Linked DNA regions of Homo sapiens: all the other regions are linked to region 1. The links come from fine-mapping of genetic effects on gene expression. A gene starts in region 1. Each other region holds a variant in brackets. All regions are shown on one strand. Distances are between the middles of the regions.

Region 1 (6,568 bases):
GTACTATGAGGGGCACACACGGTCTCCCCTCTGGGCCCACACAAGATCTTCTCTACGTTCTTCTGCACCTAATGCCGTTCGCACATCCTGAAGGGGGACCAAGTCAAAGGTTACCTACTTCATAAGGTTCCCCCTGACTCTCCAACTTACCACAGCTAACCACACTCTTCTCCTCTCCCAATCCATGTGTGTCCTCCATGATAACAATGTTTTATTTCTAGTATGGTCATACGAGATATGACTTACCCCACTTTTTTTTTTTTTTTTTTTTGAGATGGAGTCTTGCTCTGTTGCCCAGGCTGGAGTGCAGTGGCGCGATCTCGGTTCACTGCAAGCTCTGCCTCCTGGGTTCAGTTCACACCATTCTCCTGCCTCAGCCTCCCCAGCAGCTGGGACTACAGGCGCCCGCCACCACGCCTGGCTAATTTTTCTGTATTTTTAGTAGAGACGGGGTTTCACCGTGTTAGCCAGGATGGTCTCGATCTCCTGACCTCGTGATTTGCCCGCCTCAGCCTCCCAAAGTGCTGGGATTACAGGCGAGAGCCACCGCACCCGGCCTCGACTTACCTCTCTTGAAAATGACTTCCAAAGAGGCAGGTATTTTATCTAATGCATTTTTGTAACACAGTACCCGATGCACAGGACAGGCACTCACTCAACATCTTCTAGAATGAACTGAATACCACACTTTCCCGATGTGATTTTTTTTTTTTACTTCCAATCACCAAACAATTACCATCACCCAGTTTTTAGATAAGTCATCTGTTCTCTAAAAATATAAATCTCACTCCACAGAACAGAAGACGGATGGTGTATAATATATTCTAAAGTTCTCCACATAAGTCAATAACATGAACAAAGTTCATATAATCCAAAGAGCAAATTCCTTCAACAAACCTGAGAGATGGTTGACCAAAAATACAAATAAGACATGACTCCTGCACTCGAAAATACTACAATCTGGCTGGGCACAGTAGCTCATGCCTGTAATCCTAACACTTTGGGAGGCTGAGGCAAGTGAATCACTTGAGATTAGGAGTTCAAGACCAGTCTGGCCAACATGGTGAAACTCCACTTCTACTGAAAATACAAAAATTAGCCAGGCCTGGTGGCGCATGCCTGTAGTCCCAGCTACTCGGGAGGCTGAGGCAGGAAAATCACTTGAACCTGGGAGGCGGTGGCTGCAGTCAGGATCACACCACTGCGCTCCAACCTGGCCAACAGAGCGAGACTCCATCTCAAAAAGAAAGAAAGAAAATACTACAATCGATCAAGAGATGTGCCAGAACAACTGTCAGGAAGAAATAAGAAATGGTGGAGAGAAGTGGGGAAACAACTTTTGCTATGAAGGTAAAATACGAGACTCCCACAAAGCTTTCCAAGGCAAGCTCATCCCGTCCTTGAGACCTGAAGAAAAGGAGGCACTGACGAGGGGAAAACAGTCACTCTGCAGGGACTTCAGTAACTCCCTCTCGTGCAGGAGTCCCTGGGAGGCTCCAGTTGCCCGTCAATGTCTGTGTAATTGCGACCCAAATCGAATGTTCACTACATAAAAACGTGACTTCTTAAAAGTCCTAATACTAGGGCCGGGCGCAGTGGCTCACGCCTGTAATTCCAGCACTTTGGGAGGCCGGGGCGGGAGGATCACCCGGGATCAGGAGTTCGAGGCCAGCTTGGCCAACGTGGTGAAACCCCGTCTCTACTAAAAATACGAAAATTAGCTGGGTGTGGTGGTGCACGACTGTAATCCCTGTTACTCGGGAGGCTGAAGCAGGAGAATCGCTTGAACGCGGGAGGTGGAGGTTGCAGTGAGCCGAGACTGCGCTCCAGCCTGGGAAACAAGAGCGAAAAACTATGTCTCAAAAAAAAAAAAAAAAAAAAAAAGTCCTAATACTCAACACTTGTTGACTCATTCTTGCCACACCAACCAACGCTGTAAAAATTTAGTCTGGGCCTACTATGGTCTGAAAAGGAACAGGTATTCCCAAATCTAACAGTGAAAGAGAATGACTTAAAAATTATGAAACGTTAAATCACGAGAACAACGAACCCAGGATTCCTGAGAGGGGAGGGGGCTACGCCAAACCCAGAATCCGAAGGCTCATCACGGACCACGGAACGCTTCCTCCCTCACATGTCGGGGTCCCCCTCCACTCGCCCACATCGTCACCCGGGGCCCCTCCAGGGAACCCAACTCTGGGTGTACCCCCATCTCTGGGGGCCCTCAGTCTTTGGGTGGACCACGGTCTTAGGTGGACCCCGGTCTCTGGGGGATCCGATCTCTGGTGGACCCCGGATTCTGCTGGGGGAGGGGAAATGATCCCGAGTACGCGGCCAGACGGTCAGGCCCAGGAGCGGGGGATGGGCGAGCGGAAGGCGACCGCTCTCCCACGGCTACAGGCCCGGACCCTCCCCGGGGACCCAGCTGAGGAGAACGCGAAAGTTGCAGTGGCCCTCCCGGGGCCGCCTACCTTGGCGGACGGCACCACCGTAATTTTCTTGAAGTTGTAATGTGCCATGCCGGCAGCCGTATGCACGCGGGTACTTGGCACTCCCGGAACTTCCGCCGTCGGGCGCAGGTGGGACTTCCACTGTCGGGCGGTTGAGGTACGTCACTTCCGGGAGCTCAGCCAATCGTGTTCTGCGTGCTCTACGGCGCTTTCCGCGTCGCACAGCGCACCCGCCCGGCTTGGAGGTCAGCCACGGAGGGCGTGTGAGGGCCTCAGGAGCGAGGGTACAGAGGAGAGGACGCCCGGGTTTTAGGGGGAGCGCGGAGACTAAATTCCTGCTGAGTAAAGCGGGGGTTTCCGACAGACTGCCCTGCGGGTTTCTGGAGCGGGTTCAGGCCCCCAGCCACGCGCCCTGGGCCAGGGTTGGAGGGTCCGGGGTCTTGGGATTTGGGAGTTGCGGGGCTTAGGAGTCCAGAGGGTCTAGGGGATCCGGGAGTCTGGGGGTCCTGGGTCGCGGCGAGCCCCGCAAAGGAGGAGGAAGCCGCGCGTGCGGGGCGTGCCCAGCCTCTGGGTGTGGAGCAGATGACGCCCCTACCCCGGCCTCGCGCGTGGGACTTGATCCCGGGCCGTGGTGAGGAGGCCCTCGCGGCTTCCCTGCAGCCCTGCTTTCTCGTGCTTGTTAAATCCCAAAACGGGCGGAGAAGGGAAAGCCTGATCTAAGGCAAAAGAGGTGCAGCTGGTTCCGCGCAGTGCCTTAGGAGAGCCCAGGGAACAGTTGCGAGAGACAGTCCTGTGGGGTCCAACTGAGGAGAAGGTTGATGAGGATGGAGCCTTTACTGCTTTTATGTTTGTGAATAGAGTGGCCGCTCCCTTTGGGAACCCAGGGCCACATCCCTTAAATTAAACGTTAGGTAGGGCTGACTCAGTCAAGCAGTGTTCAGAGCTGCTGACTATATATTAACTCGTTTAATTTCTGCAACAGCCTCATGAAGTGCATGGGGAAACAAAGGCACACAAGGCTCGAAAGCACCCCGTGGTTGTGCAGCTGACAAGCTAACAGGCAGCAGAGGTGGGCTTTGAACCCAGGCAGCCTGGCTCCAGCAAACCTGCTTCTAACCATTAGCTATACTGCTTCTCACGCATCTGGGATGCCCCCCACTCTCCAATCCTTTTAAACAAGTCCTATTATTCTTACGCGAAAATACCTCTCATAAATTCCCAGCATTCCAATATTGAAAATCATTCTGGGTCATGCTTTTCTCATCTATTAACTATGCTTCCATTTTTGTGTCACAAGGCGGATAAGCATACCTCCTACATCTTTGTGGCACTTCTAAAGGAAGCTTCTAGGGTAATTAGGATTTGCTGGCTATGATCATTTGCTAAACCACAGGACAGTTCTGGCCACCATTTCCGAGATTAGCAAAGCTATGCTCATACTTATTGCCCTTTCTTTTAGGTTCTTGTATGTTTCCTCAACCTCTCCCACTTTCTCTCACTCTGATATAGCCAGTTCCTCTTTTTCTTGTAATCCGGTATTTAGATAAGTCCAGTCAATACTTTGCTTCAGATGGGCAAACATCCTTTCTTTAATTTTTTTTTTTTTTTTGAGACGGAATCTCACTCTGTCGCGCAGGCTGGAGCGCAGTGGCGCCATCTCAGCTCACTGCAACCTCCGCCTCCAGGGTTCAAGCCATTCTCCTGCCTCAGCCTCCCAAGTAGCTGGGATTACAGGCACCTGCCACCACTCCCGGCTAATATTTTGTATTTTTAGTAGAGACAGGGTTTTACCATATTAGCCAGGCTGGTCTCAAACCCTGACCTCAAGTGATCCACCCACCTTGGCCTCCCAAAGTGCAGAGATTACAGGCATGAGCCACCTGCTTTTAACTTGTTCAGCTACAAAGGCATGTCTGTGAATGCACAACCATAATGACTCATCATGGGCCCAGAGCTATAACAATGATAAGGTACCAAGCATCTTACACCATGTGCGTGTTGATGAGAATCAACATCCTTGCCTGTTCTTGTGATTTTGTGGCAGAGTATAGCTTCTTGGGGGCAAGTATGTATTCTACACCACTAGGAGCAAGCTTCTTTATCATACACTTCTGGGCTTCTCTGGGGAAGCCAAACTCTAAAGGCCTTTTCTGAGGAGTGTCGCAAATGCTGCCTGCAGTACGAGGCACATTGCCAGTTCCTGACTGCATTAGCAGGTTCCAGCTGCCAGGACGCCTCTGAGTGTGTACCTTGTGACAGAAAGGTACTTCTCAGCTGTAGTAAAGGATGCTCTCAAGGGTACTCTGCAAAGCTTCTGACTGCGAGGCACTTCTCAGTAAAAAGCTTTGTTTTTCAGACCTTTTTATTTTGTGGGTTTGGTCTTTTCTGTTTTACCTTCTCGTTGCTGTAATTCTGATGGATGAAAGGTACATTTTGCAGAACTGAACTTCCTGCCTGAAAGGAGCCTTTACATGGGGATTAGCCATCAGTAGGCATCCGGTCTTAGAGGGTCCTATGAGTGCTCCATTGGGCCCGTCGGCCACTTCCCTGGATCCCCACAGGAACTCATTCAGAACGAGTCACATGCTGCTTTGTACCTAGATGCTTCCTTGTGTACATCTTGTTTCCAAAAGAAGTAGCCAGCTCTTCGTGGACAGGAACTGTGTCTTACTTTTTTGCCATCCCTCACCTCAGGCAGCACTGCCAAGAGCATTCACAGTGACTGTGGAACTCCGTTGATTGAATGTTGGCTTGAGTAAGTTCCTGATGTAGGGGCTGTAGCGGTTGGAATCAAGCTTCTGCAATACTCAAGTAGTCCTACTGAATTACAGTACTGTCAGACCCCCTCTGCACAACCCTGAAGTGGGTCAGAACTCCACACTGTGCCATAAAGAGGAAAGCTGTCAACAGGGAGGTCTAAGGAAACACCTCCTTAGGTGGAAGGCAGCAATGGCATGAGAGCCACCCTCCGGGCCAAAGGTGCAGCCTGACATTCTCTGCAGAATTACACAGTGAGTTAAGACTGTGAGCTTCATTTCTGAGATACAGCTCCACCCGCTGTGATCCTGGGAAAATGTCTCAGCTTCCCCAAGCCTCTGTTTCTTCACTCTTTGCTCACTTACTATCTACCAGGCATGTTAAAAATACTTTATGTGAATTATTTTAGCTTTTCACTAACCCTATTCTACAGGCATTAATAAGTGAGCAAAGAGATTGTGTATTATTAATTATGCATTATGTATTATCTATGTTCTTATTAGCTGCTTAGTTACAATAATATTTGCTAAACTTTTGTTCTATTCATTAAATTATCGTTGAACCTTAACAACTGCAATGCAGGGAGCCTCCACCATGTGCCAGGTCACTTGCTTTCTTCTCGGGACAGCATAGTGAGGTGGGTGTGATTGTCTCTGTTTCACAGACAAGAGTGCTGGCTTTGAGGTGGTTGAGTGCTTGCTCACCGTCACACAGCTGGAGAGACACAATGAGGTGCGTTCAGGGCGCATGGAACTCCAAAGCCACTCTCCTTTTGCACTGCCAGCCGAGAGTGGCTTTGTTCTTGACCTCTGTAGAGTTATTACCTTGTTTGGTATTTGTTTGTTTGTTTATTTATTTATGAGACAGGGTCTCACTCTGTCGCCTAGGCTGGAGTGCAATGGTGTGATCTTGGCTCACTGCAACCTCCACCTCCCAGGTTTAAGCAATTCTCAGATTTAAGTGCCTCAGCCTCCCGAGTAGCTGGGACTACAGGTACATGCCACCACACCTGGCTACTTTTTGTATTTTTTAGTAGAGGGGAGATTTCGCCATGTTGTCCAGGCTGGTCATGAATTGTTTGGTATTTAAATGGAGGTACATGATGGATTGCACTTGGGGTCATATGCTGTCAATAATCCCCCAGCACCTGTGTTTCACTAAAGCACTGTTTGCATATGCAGACAGGTTGTGTTTCTTCTGTGAGAATTCCGTTCCTGTGCGTGGATCATGACAGGCACCTGTGCTAATGAACTTCTGCCCTTGCTCACGTCAGAGCTGCTGATAAGGGGTGTTTCTATGGGTTGAGTACGAGTCATTCTATTGACACACTGTTAAAAACATTCTTTGCATTCTGCTGTTCC
Region 2 (6,568 bases), 32 kb before region 1:
CCAGGGTGGTCTCGATCTTCTGACCTCGTGATCCGCCCACTTCAGCCTCCCAAAGTGCTGAGATTACAGGCGTGAGCCACCGCACCCGGCCCGATTTCATTCTTCTTTTGTGGTGGAATGGTATGCCACTGTGTATCTAACCCTCATGTTTTCAACCCTTCAAACCTCCACGGACACAGGTTGATCTCATATCTTGGCTGTCGTAAATGGTGCTCAGCACCCAGGAATGCTGCGATATCTCTCTGATAGACTGATCTCTTTTATTTTGGATATTTGCCCTGGTAGTGGGATTTCTGGGTCATCTGGTAGATCTATTTTTAGTTTCCCGAGTGTTCTAATCCGCTGAGATTCTGAAACGTTGTGTTTGGGCATCCAGCAGTCCCCTTTGCCCTGCCCAGGTGCCACAATCACAGGCTTTTCTACGAGAAACAGACTGAGGACAAAAAGCACGAAGGACAATCGTACAGACTCCAGGCATGCACTCACACAAATGGCACTTACCTTTGCAGGGCTGCTGCACCGAGCCTTCAGCGTTGTCTTGTTTAACACCAAGAATCGAATCCTGATACAGCAGAGGTCGGACACGAAAGTCACGTTTCCTGGTGAGTCCGTTCAACCAAGCCCCGGACTGAAGAGAGCATCTCATGTGACTTGACCGGAGGAATCTGGGACAGGAACTCTCTGGTGCTCAGTGCCGCACTGTGGTGAGCTGGCAGCTCATCCTGCAGAAAATCGGCAGCTTAGGCAGATGCTAATTATGCTGATAGCTCTTCAGTAGGCTGGGTTTTCTTTTTTAAAAAAGTAAGAAACTATATGAGTTTCTGGGTTTTTTTGTTTTGTTGTTTCTTTGCAACGGCAAGTTACTTAAATGCAGAGGAATTTATCAACCTAAGGATTTAGGGGATTAAAATAGCATTTAGCATAAAATTAACTAGGTAATAATAATAAAAATTATCTTACAGGTCTTAGAGTTTTAATTATCTTGTACTTCTTAAAATTACAACTTAAAATTTTTTTTTTTTTTTGGAGATGGAGTCTGGCTCAGTCACCCAGGCTGGAGTGCAGTGGCGCCATCTCGGCTCACTGCAAGCCCCGCCTCCTGGGTTCACGCCATTGTCCTGCCTCAGCCTCCCAAGTAGCTGGGACTACAGGCGCCCGCCACCACACCCGGGTAACGTTTTGTATTTTTAGTAGAGACGGGGTTTCACCGTGTTAGCCAGGATGGTCTCGATCTCCTGACCTCGTGATATGCCTGTCTTGGCCTTCCAAAGTGCTGGGATTATAGGCGTGAGCCACCGGGCCCGGCCAAAAAATTTTTTAGAGGGGAACAGCATTTACGTCAATTGTGGTCATTTAAAGTGTTTTGGCCTAGGCTGTCCTCAAATTTTCAAAACCAGACCTTGCCTGAGCCATTAAAGCGAATGGCTAAGCACGGCCAGCTGTGGCCGAGGTTTTCTCCTCCCTTAGTTCTTCCTCGGAGCCGCAGTGGGTACATCCTGCCCATTCCCAAACCCACCACCATACTTGCTGGTCAAGTTGTACTCACGGGCTCCTTGATGGAGCTGAATGCAAAGTTTGTTTCAGAAAAATTCAGGAGCTGCAAAGTTAAGAGGGTCAACTGTAGTACATAGTCAACAGTTTGCAAATAAAGCCCCTGGAGCTAAGATTTCCTATCATGTGTTAGCCGCCTCCAGGATACATAGGGGCAGGTGGGAGTACCAGCTCTTGTACTTGCAAGAGTGGATTCAACTTCAGCCAAACTCCTTGCAGAGTGACCGAAGGAAGCACTGAGGGTCTGAGGAACGAGAGGGAACAGAGATTTACTGAGGAGAGTGTGACCTCCCGTCATAGCGCTATTGCTGTTACTTGGGTAAATTAAGTAGAACCTCTCAGTAAGGAAACTTGGTCAAAGGTATTCCAGCAGTCTTCCTGTGAAACCATGCTCACTGATCACCACCCTCAAAGTGCAGCCCAGCTTCCTCAGCCCAGCTGGTGCAGCCACCCAGCCCACAGCCCCACCACCTCCTCCCGCCACCCCATGGCATCTCAGGTCCTCTGTGGGTACAAAACTGAGTAGGAACCAGTCCCTCTCCTAAGACATACTGGGATAGTGCCACGGGACATGTGTGTGCACATCTGCAGGAAGGGCCGCAGGAGCGGTCAGGGCCAGCCCCGCCAGGTGGTCATGTGGAAGACCCTCACCAAGCCCACAGCCGTGGAGGCTGGAGGCGAGTGCTGCTCTGAGAGCCCATGACAAACCCACTCCCCCCGCCAGGCTGTCTTCTGCTGATGACGGATGATGGTTTTACATGAAGCATCTGCATTTGTATTTAATATATTCACTTTTCAGGAATAAAGAGGGATGTTCCCACATGCATTTTTTCCAGGGTATTTTACCGACTCCTGTAGTAGCCACCCATTATACAACCCAGCAGAACTGGAAGAAAAGGATGCCATCGGAGTGAGGAGGGCAGCCCAGAGGCGTCTGCAAGCAGAGCTGGGAATTCCTGGGGAGCAGGTACACACAGCATCCAGTCTCAGCTGTGTCCACGGGAGTCCAGGTTGGCAGCGGGCAGACGGTGAACAAAGTCCAGGCTGGATCTACACCATTGACCTCATGAAGCACCATGAGGATGAAGGATGGGGCTGTGGATGGGGCTGTGAATGAGCTGTGAATGGGGCTGTGAATGGGGCTGTGAATGTAGCTGTGGATGGGGCAGTGTGAGTCCCTATGTGTCCCAGGCAGGGTTGAGACTGTGCAGGAATCTGTCGACCACACACCGAAGAGGAAATTCAAGCCGGGCGTGGTGGCTCACGCCTGTAATCCCATCACTTTGGGAGGCCGAGGCGGGCGGATCACAAGGTCAAGAAATCAAGACCATCCTGGCCAACATGGTGAAACCCCGTCTCTATTAAAAGTACAAAAATTAGCTGGGCGTAGTGGCACACGCCTGTAATCCCAGCTACTTGGGAGTCAGAGGTTGCAGTGAGCCGGGATTGTGCCACTGCACTCCAGCCTGGCGACAGAGCGAGACTCCATCTCAAAAAAAAAAAAAAGAAAGAAATTCAAGTGTAGAAAGAATGTCCAGGATCCTGTGAGCATGTGTTACCTTCATCCACTCAAGAACACGTTTAAGAGAGGATGGATGTTCTCCTGACAACGCTAGCCGGTTTCTACGGGGTTTTCTGTTGAGGATGTGTGTGTGACACGGTTAGTTCTTTAAATGAAGACAGACAGGTTTACTGGAACCAAGAAACCAAAGCCGGTTTATCATTCAGACTTGAGTCCACAAAAATTTACTTAGCTAAAATCGAGGTTTTGGAAATTATCAATTACCAAAGAAAGTGTTCATTTTCTGAGGAAAACAAATGTGTTTATTTTCTCTATTTTTCTGTAAATTCTGTGTTTTACATTAGCGTTGTTAACACTGCACCAATTTCTGTCAATAGATTTCTCCAGAGGACATTGTGTTCATGACAATCTATCACCACAAGGCAAAATCAGACAGAATTTGGGGAGAGCATGAAATTTGTTACCTTCTGCTTGTGAGGAAAAACGTCACTCTGAACCCGGATCCCAGTGAAACGAAAAGCATCCTCTACCTGTCCCAGGAGGAGCTGTGGGAGCTGCTGGAGAGGGAGGCGAGGGGTGAAGTCAAAGTCACCCCCTGGCTAAGAACCATTGCCGAGAGGTTTCTGTACCGGTGGTGGCCTCACCTGGATGACGTGACCCCGTTTGTGGAGCTTCACAAAATACACAGAGTGT[G/A]AGAGGCAGGGAGGTCGAGTCAGCCATGTGTAATGCCCTCAGTGCAGGCAGACGCACCATTGAGGCAATGATACACCCTCTCCAAAAAACAGGGCAAAAGGGGCACTTGATTGCCCATCATGTATAAATCACTATTTCAACCTTTTCATCAACTTTGTCATATCTTCATTTTCCCTTTTCCTTATTTCCATATTTCTCATCTGCCTGGTTGCAGGGAGGAAATTTAACATTTCCTTTGTCCCAATTTCCATTTTATAAGCACTTGTTTGATTAACAGCAGCTGATCCTGAAAGTCTTGGGGAGATCTTGAGAGTCCTGAAGCAGGCGGACTAGCCTGGCTGGACCATGAGGCTGTCTCCCCACAGCTTTATCCAAGCCTCCAAGGTCAGGATGGGATCTCTGTATCATGTTTTTCTTTTTAAATCACTTATTTCAGAGTGCAACACAAGGCTGCATTTTTAAAAAAAAGACACATTCAATCTTGCATCCTAATACAAGCAGTACGGAAGATGCGTATGGTCTCAGCCAAGTGACTCGACGTTTATCCACTTCTGTTCATTTGATCGTTTCAGTAATATGCTTACAAATAAAGACATACTTGCTTTAAAACATACTGTTGTTGTTTAACACAAAGTAAACTATATGTTAAGTTTTGGTGTTTAATACGGAGAAAGAATTTCAAAAACCAGACCTGGTATTTTTTTTTTTTTTTTGAGATGGAGTCTCGCTGTCGACCAGGCTGGAGTGCAGTGGTGCGATCTTGGCTCACTGCAAGCTCCGCCTCCCGGGTTCAAGCCATTCTCCTGCCTCAGCCTCCCAAGTAGTTGGGACTACAGGCGCCCGCCACCACACCCAGCTAATTTTTTGTATTTTTAGTAGAGACGGGGTTTCACCGTGTTAGCCAGGATGGTCTCGATCTCCTGACCTCGTGATCCGCCTGCCTCGGCCTCCCAAAGTGCTGGGATTACAGGCATGAGCTGCCGCGCCCGGCCATACTGTTGTTGTTTAACACAAAGTAAACTATATGTTAAGTTTTGGTGTTTAATACGGAGAAAGAATTTCAAAAACCAGACCTGGTATTTTTTTTTTTTTTTTCACACGGAGTCTCTCTCTGTCACCCAGGCTGGAGTGCAGTGGCACGATCTCGGCTCACTGCAACCTCCGCCTCTGGGCTCAAGCAATTCTCCTGCCTTAGCCTCCCGAGCAGCTAGGATTACAGATGCCCACCACCACGCATGGCTAATTTTTGTATTTTTAGTAGAGATGGGGTTTCACCATGTTGGCCAGGCTGGTCTCGAACTCCTGACCTCCTGATCTGCCCACCTCGGCCTCCCAAAGTGCTGGAACTACAGGCTTGAGCCCCTGCGCCCAGCCCAGCCCTGGTAAATTTTTAAAATTGCCACATGTAATCCAGAAGTGTGATTAACTAAAGTCCTTTCCTCAGCTATAATGTTGATTGTGTGACTTGATAACTTATCCGTGGTGGCTCTTGGACCCCTGTGTGTCTTTGGAGCTCCAGGAGCACACGGACCCCTGGGCAGGTCCCTCCGACCCCACAGCTCTTCACCCCAACGCTCCCCAGCAGGTGCTTTTGAGGTGGCATTGGCGGTGTTTTTGTGTTTTACTGAACATGTAACTTCAGGGACGGGCCACAGAAATAGGAGAATGCCCATATTTAATTGCCTAATGCCTCCAGCAACATTTTACTCCCCCAAAAGTATTTTTGCTTTAAAACAAAATAGAAATGTCATGTTGTTTGCCTTTTTATTTGGCCAAATCCATAGCGACTATAACTAAACCAAAACATGAGCTAAGTAAATGAAAACTACTTTCTTCTGGAGGTTTATTTTGGATAAAATAGTTGAAGACAGACTACAATGAGACATTGTAAAATAAGACTAGAAAATAATTTAAGAGCGTATTTTAAGCACGGGATTCCGACACACTCATAAACGTGTTTGCTCCCAGCTCTTACAAAAGAAAATAAGGTTTTTCTCCATCAAAAACAACCTAGTTAAACCAGTAAATCTTCCCAGTTCTGAAAATCTGAAGCAACTGATACTCCATTAAATGTGGAAACACTGTCTACTCAAAATATTTGTAATATTATGCAGTGACAAAAATTTCCCACACCTATATAGGGTTAACCATAGTTTTCAGCAAAGCAACAAGTGCTTTACTTATTTTGTCTTTTTCAGTTTATACAGAGCTCCAATTTCATGAAACCATACTGTGCCAAACCAGGAAATAAACAGCAACACTCTAGCGAAGCCACGCCAACCAAACGGATACTATCTCCTGTCCTTTTTACCAGCTTTCCTCTTCCCAGACAGCAAGTGCTTGGGCTTCATATCAAACACGTGTCTATCCGCCTCCCCTTTCTTCCCCAACCGATTCATCTTCTTCTGAGCATTCTTCATCATAGTCTTGGCTTTCTTCACCATCTAAAAGGAGGAGAAAAAAATAAAGTATGTTCATTACTTAAAACCAATTTTCCATTCTGAATTTCAACTACTGGGTAACAATCTGTTTAATGGCTCAGGTCTGCTCAGCGAAGAGACCCTGTTACATCTCTTTTCTCTTAAGCCCAGCACAGTTATCCCTGTTACATCTCTTTTCTCTTAAGCCCAGCACAGTTACCCCTGTTACATCTCTTTTCTCTTAAGCCCAGCACAGTTACCCCTGTTACATCTCTTTTCTCTTAAGCCCAGCACAGTTATCCCTGTTACATCTCTTTTCTCTTAAGCCCAGCACAGTTATCTGCAGGAACTCAATGAGTATTTTTGTATAAAGACTGGATGA
Region 3 (6,568 bases), 120 kb before region 1:
TGGCGACCAGAATGATAAATCCTTTCCAGAAGGTGCTCAATTGACGTTGCCAAGGTCCATCAGAGGAATCACTATCTATGGCAGCTATAGCCTTACAAAGTGTATTTTTTAAATAATAAGACTCAAAAGTCAAAATGACTCCTTGAACCATGGGCTGCAGAATGGGGGTTGTGTTACCAGGCATGAAAACACCATTCATCTCCTTGTACATCTCCGTCAGAGCCCTTAGGTGCACTGTCAATAAGCAGGACAATTTTGAAAAAAAAGTTTTTTCCTGAGCAGTAGCCTCAACAATAGGCTCAAAATATTCAGAAACCATGGTGTAAACAGATGTGCTCTCATCCAGCCTTTGGTGATCCATTTATAGAGCACAGGCAGAGTAGGTTTCACATAATTCTTAAGGGCCCTAGGATTTTCAGAATGGTAAATGAGCACTGGCTTCAACTGTAAGTCACCAGCTGTACTAGCCCCTCACAAGAGCATCAGTCTGTCCTTCGAAGCCAGGCAGTGACTTCTCTTCTCTAGCTAGGAAAGTTCTACGTGGCATCTTCTTTAACAGAAGGCTGTTTTGTCTACACTGAAAATCTGTTATTAAACATAGTCATCTTCATCGATGATCCCAGCTGGATCTTCTGGAGAACTTGCTGCAGCTTCTCCATCAGCACTTGCTGCTTCACCTTGCACTCTCATGTTATGGAGACGGCTTCCTTCCTTAAACCTCATAAACCAACCTCTGCCAGCTTCCAGCTTTTCTTCCGCAGCTCCCTCACCTTTCTAAGCCCTCACAGAATTGAAGAGTCAGGGCCCTGCTCTGGATTAGGCTTTGGCTAAAGGGAATGTTGTGGCTGGTTTAATCAATGCAGACCACTCAAAGTTCCTTCATATCAGCATTAGGATTGTGTTCTTATCATTCGTGTGTTCACTGGAGTAGCAGTTTTACTTTCCTTCCAGAACTTTTCCTTTGCATTCAGAACCTGGCTGTCCAGTGCAGGATGCCCAGCTTTCAGCCTCTCTGCCTTCGACACATCTTCCTCACTAAGCTTCGTCATTTCCAGCTTTCAAGTGAGGGACACGCAACTCTTCATTTCAACACTGAGAGGCTGCTATAGGGATGTTAATTGGCCTAATTTCAACAGTGTTGTGTCTCACTCATGAAGTCAGAGGCATTAGGAGAAGGTGAGAGACGAAGGAACGGCCAGTTAGTGGGGCAGTCGGAACACACACGATTTATCGACTAAGTTCACTGTCTTCTATGGGCAAGGTTCCCAGGGCCTCAAAACCAATTATAACAGTTACAGCAAAAGTCACTGACCACCCTCATATAATCACAATGAAAAAGTAAGAAGTATTGTGAGAATGACCAAAATGTGAGAGAGAGGCAGGAAGTGAGCACGTGCTGTTGGAAAACTGGCACCAACAGACCTGCTCAGCCAGGGCTGGGCTCCACAGACCTTCATTTGCAAAAAACATCAATCTACGGAGTGCAATCAAACAAGGTGTAAGAAATAGCCACCAAGGCACGTGCCTGCAGTCCCAGCTACTTGGGAGGCTGAGGCAGGGGAATCGCTTGAACCCAGGAGGTGGAGGTTGCAGTGAGCCGAGATTGCACCACTGCACTCCAGCCTGGGCAACAGAGCGAGACTCCGTCTCACAAAAAAAAAAAAGAGAGAGAGAGAAATAGCCACCAACAGCTGAATTCCTGTGACACACTGAAATTTTCAAATTAAGCCTTTTTATTATTTCTAATAACAACACATACTACAACTTCACATTTCTGCTATATGAAGTATCTAAAATTGCTTTTCATATAAATCAGTACACGCTGGGTCACTAACAAACAGTCAAATAAAAACAGCCACACAGTTACGCCAACTAAGTACTATCATGGTAAAATTCCTGCTATAATACAGAGATGCCACAACACAGAGTGGAAAGAAATAAGACACATCAAAAGGAAAAGGTGACTGGTCCTTCTAAACACGTAGGATCAAAGCCTTCAGCAGCTCACAGCACGGAGCTCCATCCCCATCCAGCAAAGGTAATGACCACACGTTTCAGGGGACCCATTTCGCTACACTTTTCTTTCTTACAGTGAAGCATTGGAACTCAAACTCCAGTCTTTCAAAAAGGCACAGAATGCAAGTAAAAGTATGGGGATTACAGTAAGAAAAAAAAGAAAGTGGGGAAAAATCTCTCCTGGAAACTGGATCACAAAACTGGGCCAGTTACCTTAAGCCTTTAGAGCTACTTCTTGCCTTAAGAAAACCCAATATACAGCAATTCACCTTAACTAGACAGTTAATTATTTACATTATAAAAGACATTAGATTCCAACATACTATACTAAAGAATTTACGCTTAGTTCCTACAAGTGAAAATACGCCCTAAGATAAAACTTTGAAAAGCACATTCCACATCATGTTAATATAAATTATGTGAGAAAGGGTATTTTTAGTCACACATGTTGAAGAAATACTGCCTCTGTTTAAGGGGTATCACTAAAAACACCATGCATATAACTTTCCAGCCTACATCAACAAGAACAGCAAACTTCCTAAGAACACATGTCTGACTTTTGCTTTCAATGCTCAGGAAAAGAACTAGTGAAAAGAACTCAGGATCACCCTGTAAAACCGGCAGAGCTACTTCCCGGATGAGCAGGCAGTCCTGCAGGCCTCAGGCCCGGCCCTGGGCCAACATTCCCACCTATCAGGGTGCCAGGCCCTGTGGGTCTGGGCGCTAACACGCTGGACACCCATCGGAGGCTCACGGATGTCCTTGGCGATGCCGTGGCCACTGCAGAGAAGCCCCCGGCGCAGAGGGTCCCTCAGAATGACATGGTGGCAGGGAAGGCAGGGGACCCAGGGTGTGCTCTTACAAGTCATGTTCAGAACGTCCCAGACAAGTGACCAAACGGAACACACACACACAACCTGGCCATTCCTCTCAGGAACTAAACCCGCACCCCGGACCTCACCCAGGTGTGCTGGGGCGCGGACGCACATCTCAGGACCTAAACCGCACTGCGAGGCCCTCACCCTGGTGTGCTGTGGCGCGGATGCACAGCTCTACACATTTGTAAGGATCACGCACTCTGTAGGTTTTATTTGTCGTATTGGCTCGAACCTACAAAACCCATGCCGGAGACAAAGGCAAGTGTTACTAAGAAGACACCTCAGATGAAACATTTTTGTAAAATGACTCATTTCCTGCTTTTCTCATTATGAGGCACGTCTAAAGGTTTACAGCTGATCTGATGTCAGGAAGGAAGAGTTTGTGTTCAATAAAGGCGTCCACGGCTCCACCTGCTGACCAAGCCCTCATCCTGCATGCGCACAGCTGAGAAACCGCCAGGCCGGTGAGGGGAAGCTCAATGTCCAACAGCCCAGCGGACTCGCCCCGACACAGCAACAAAATTAGCGCCAAAGAGAGATCTTTTCAAAACGTATTTTTGGATGTACACATCAACAAGATACGCTAGTTCATGATAATTTGAGTAAGAAAAAAGAAAGCGTAAACGATCTGAGTAAGCATGGCCCGGGCAGGTCTGGTCCACGTTCACCTCACCCCCGTGGTTCAGGTGAATGGAAGCACAGCCTACAGCCTGGAAGACCCATGTGGGAGAAAGGGCACA[C/T]GGGAATTACACACTCCACCTTACTCTACCCCCACACCTGATTCCAATAGGAAGACATAAACCCTAGGAAACTGTATTCATAGGTCCACATTAGTAAGAACTTTTTCATAACACTTACTACATTCTTCATAAGTACAGCTCTCTAAAAAACTACCATTGTTTCATGTATCCACTAGCTGCAAAAATGTACCACAAATTAACCAGAATTTTTTTTTTTCTGAGACGGAGTTTGGAGTTTCGCTCATTGCCCAGGCTGGAGTGCAACGGCGTGATCTCGGCTCACCGCAACCTCCACCTCCCAAGTTCAAGCGATTCTCCTGCCTCAGCCTCCCAAGTAGCTGGGATTACAGGCGTGCGCCACCACACCTGGCTAATTTTGTATTTTTAGTAAAGACAGAGTTTCTCCATGTTGGTCAAGCTGGTCTCAAACTCCCAGCCTCAGGTGATCCCCAAAGTGCTGGGATTACAGGCGTGAGCCACCGCGCCCAGCCTAAGCAGATATTTTAAAGATGCCACCAGCACTGACTTCACTTCACAGTCAAATGGCCAAGACCACACGGTTGCAACAGCCTTAGAAGCGAAAACATGCACTTGCAATCAACTCTGGTGATATAAATACAAAAACTTTTCTTTTTACACAAAACAAAAATAAAATCTTCCAGTTAAATATGGCAACTGAACAGAGACAATACAGGACTAGAAGGGTCTTAAATAACACAAGAGGCACCTTGAAGGCACCAGGAGGGACTGCTCTGGAATGACCCCCTAGAGCCAAACCCTCAGCAAACCACCTGGCCTCCTCATGCCTCAGTTTCTCTCTCTGAACTGGGGTGATGCCAGGGGCTCCAACAGTGCCTGGCACAAACCAGCAACTCACCAAGCCCTGGCTCCACTGCGTCCTCCTCTGGACAGAATTCTTCGGCCTTTCCATCCTGCCCTCAAAGGGGACAGGCACAGCAGGGCACACTGGCCTATCCCTGCAACCCCCATATCAGAAGCACATAGGAAGCTGCCCTGCTCTCTAGACACAAAACTACCCTCTTCACCCAATTCTCAAAGCTCTGACAGATTTTTGTGCTCCATACAGATGACCAGAGTCAATGCAGTGAGAGCTGCTGGGTCTTCCCAGCCTGGGGCAGGGAGCTGTGCCAGGATGGTGGCACTCAGGGCCCTGCAGGTTCCACGGGGGGGGGGGGCATCACAGAAGCCAAAACCAAAGCAACCACAGGGATCACAACCACCAACACCAACAAAGTGCAGGTGTCTATGCTCGCTAATACTCAAAAAACACAGTGCCAACTAACCAGTGTAGACAGAAGTACAAAGATCCCCTTCTGCAGGACTCAGCGTAACAATGAGCTGAAGCCCTGGACCGAGGAAAGGTCACTGGGGAATTAACATCCATAGAATAGTGTCGCTTCGCTATTTGAAACAGGAGAGCACCTCTGGCAGGCAGACCTGCAGACGCCATCTTAACTGCAGGAGCGCTTCAGCACACCAATAGCACAGCAGAGGGGCACTTAAAGGAAGTCATAAGAAAAATGCAGAATGAGGGGCGTTCTGCAAAAGAGCAGGCTTGGATTCTTCACCAAAAAACTCAATATCCTAAAAAGTAACAAAAAATGGGGGAAGGACCATTCTAGATTAAAAGAAGCCAAAGGACATAATATCTAAATGTGATGAGAGAATCCTGATTAAATCCTAGCTCTAAAAAAAGTATCAAAGACATTTTGGGGAGAACTGAGTAAATTTAAATGTGGACCAGATAAAGGATGCCATAGAATTTTTACTAATTTTCTTATTTGAACAATGGTACTGTATTAGGAGAACATCCTTATTCTTAGAAAATGCATGCTGGAGTTTTCCTTTCAAAGGGCTCAGCCAAAGAAAATATACAAGTGTGTGTTATAGACAGAGGTGTGTACACATCTACAGAGACAGCAGTGCTGCAATACAACAACAGGTGAACCTAGGTGAAGGATAAGTGGGCGTGTCTGTTACAGACAGGTGTGTACACATGTGTAAATAGAGACAGCAGTGCTGCAATACAACAACAGGCAAACCTAGGTGAAGGGGAAGTGGGCGTGTGTTTCAGAGAGAGGCGTGTACACATGTGTAAAGAGAGACAGCAGTGCTGCAATACAACAGGCGAACCTAGGTGACAGGGTAGTGCGTGTTGTGTGTTACAGACAGTGGTGTGTACACATGTGTAAAGAGAGACAGCAGTGCCGCAATACAACAGGTGAACCTAGGTGAAGGGTTAGTGGGCGTGTGTTTCAGAGAGAGGTGTGTACACATGTGTAAAGAGACAGCGGTGCTGCAATACAACAGGTGAACCTAGGTGAAGGGTTAGTGGGCGTGTGTTTCAGAGAGAGGTGTGTACACATGTGTAAAGAGACAGCAGTGCTGCAATACAACAGGCGAACCTAGGTGAAGGGTTTGTGGGTACACTGTACTACTCTGTTGGTTTTTATGTAGGCTTGAAACTTTTCTAAGCAAAAAGCTTAGGAAAGCACTGCAGGCGCAGGAGTGAGACCATCTTGCTCCTCCCGTCCTCTAGGCCTCCGACTGCCCTTCCAATGAATTCTCATGAGAAACAGCAGGGCAGTCATGCGGGCCCCTCTGCCCCGCCCTACACAGTGGTGCCAGGTGGTGGGCCCAGGTCCAGCCAGGGCTTTGCTGTGGGGCCCCTCTGCATCTGGTGGACGTCGGGGAGCACCACATCCAAGCTAACATGCATGGGAAGCAGCGCTCCCCGAGCTGCAGCATCTTCCTCACCAATGAGCTGGCCTGCAGCGGGGTCAGGCCCATGTGGCGGAGCTCATGGGGGCCCAGCTCAGCGCCTGCTGCACCCTGATGCAGCAACAACACAGTGCTGCGTTCAGCCACTGACCACCGGGAGGTCTGTATTACTATGGCTATCGCTGACGGAGC

Direction of the effects. Alleles are on the strand shown, and positions count from the first base shown. SD is a standard deviation of normalised expression in the study named. Not every link is listed here.
In carriers of allele A in region 2, the expression in monocytes after interferon gamma of the gene that starts at base 2,565 in region 1 tends to be lower than with G alone (large effect, 1.5 SD a copy in Fairfax 2014).

What was found. PIP is the estimated chance that this variant, and not a neighbour inherited with it, causes the effect.
Region 2: its variant is the best candidate, but not a certain one, in a credible set for the expression of GTPBP4 in monocytes after interferon gamma (Fairfax 2014, PIP 0.70).
Region 3: its variant is the best candidate, but not a certain one, in a credible set for the expression of GTPBP4 in fibroblasts (GTEx, PIP 0.80).

The regions. Positions count from the first base shown.
Region 1 is chr10:984,431-990,998 of GRCh38, reverse strand. It overlaps GTPBP4 (GTP binding protein 4), which reads right to left and starts at 2,565. Exons shown (of 17, transcript NM_012341.3): 1 at 2,472-2,565. The coding sequence starts at 2,519. It also overlaps a transcript of LARP4B not described here. RefSeq lists an enhancer at 1-818.
Region 2 is chr10:1,016,717-1,023,284 of GRCh38, reverse strand. It overlaps GTPBP4 (GTP binding protein 4), which reads right to left. Exons shown (of 17, transcript NM_012341.3): 17 at 3,353-6,210. The coding sequence ends at 6,058. It overlaps IDI2 (isopentenyl-diphosphate delta isomerase 2), which reads left to right. Exons shown (of 5, transcript NM_033261.3): 3 at 510-602; 4 at 2,388-2,518; 5 at 3,451-4,375. The coding sequence ends at 3,768. It overlaps IDI2-AS1 (IDI2 antisense RNA 1), which reads right to left and starts at 648. Exons shown (of 5, transcript NR_027709.1): 1 at 502-648. The variant G/A (reference allele first, on the strand shown) is at 3,767.
Region 3 is chr10:1,107,002-1,113,569 of GRCh38, reverse strand. All of the region lies in intron 11 of WDR37 (WD repeat domain 37), which reads right to left. Among named protein-coding and RNA genes, the nearest start is that of LINC00200, 49 kb to the left of the region's middle. RefSeq lists enhancers at 2,221-2,801, 3,178-3,327, 2,802-3,384, 2,702-3,901. The variant C/T (reference allele first, on the strand shown) is at 3,635.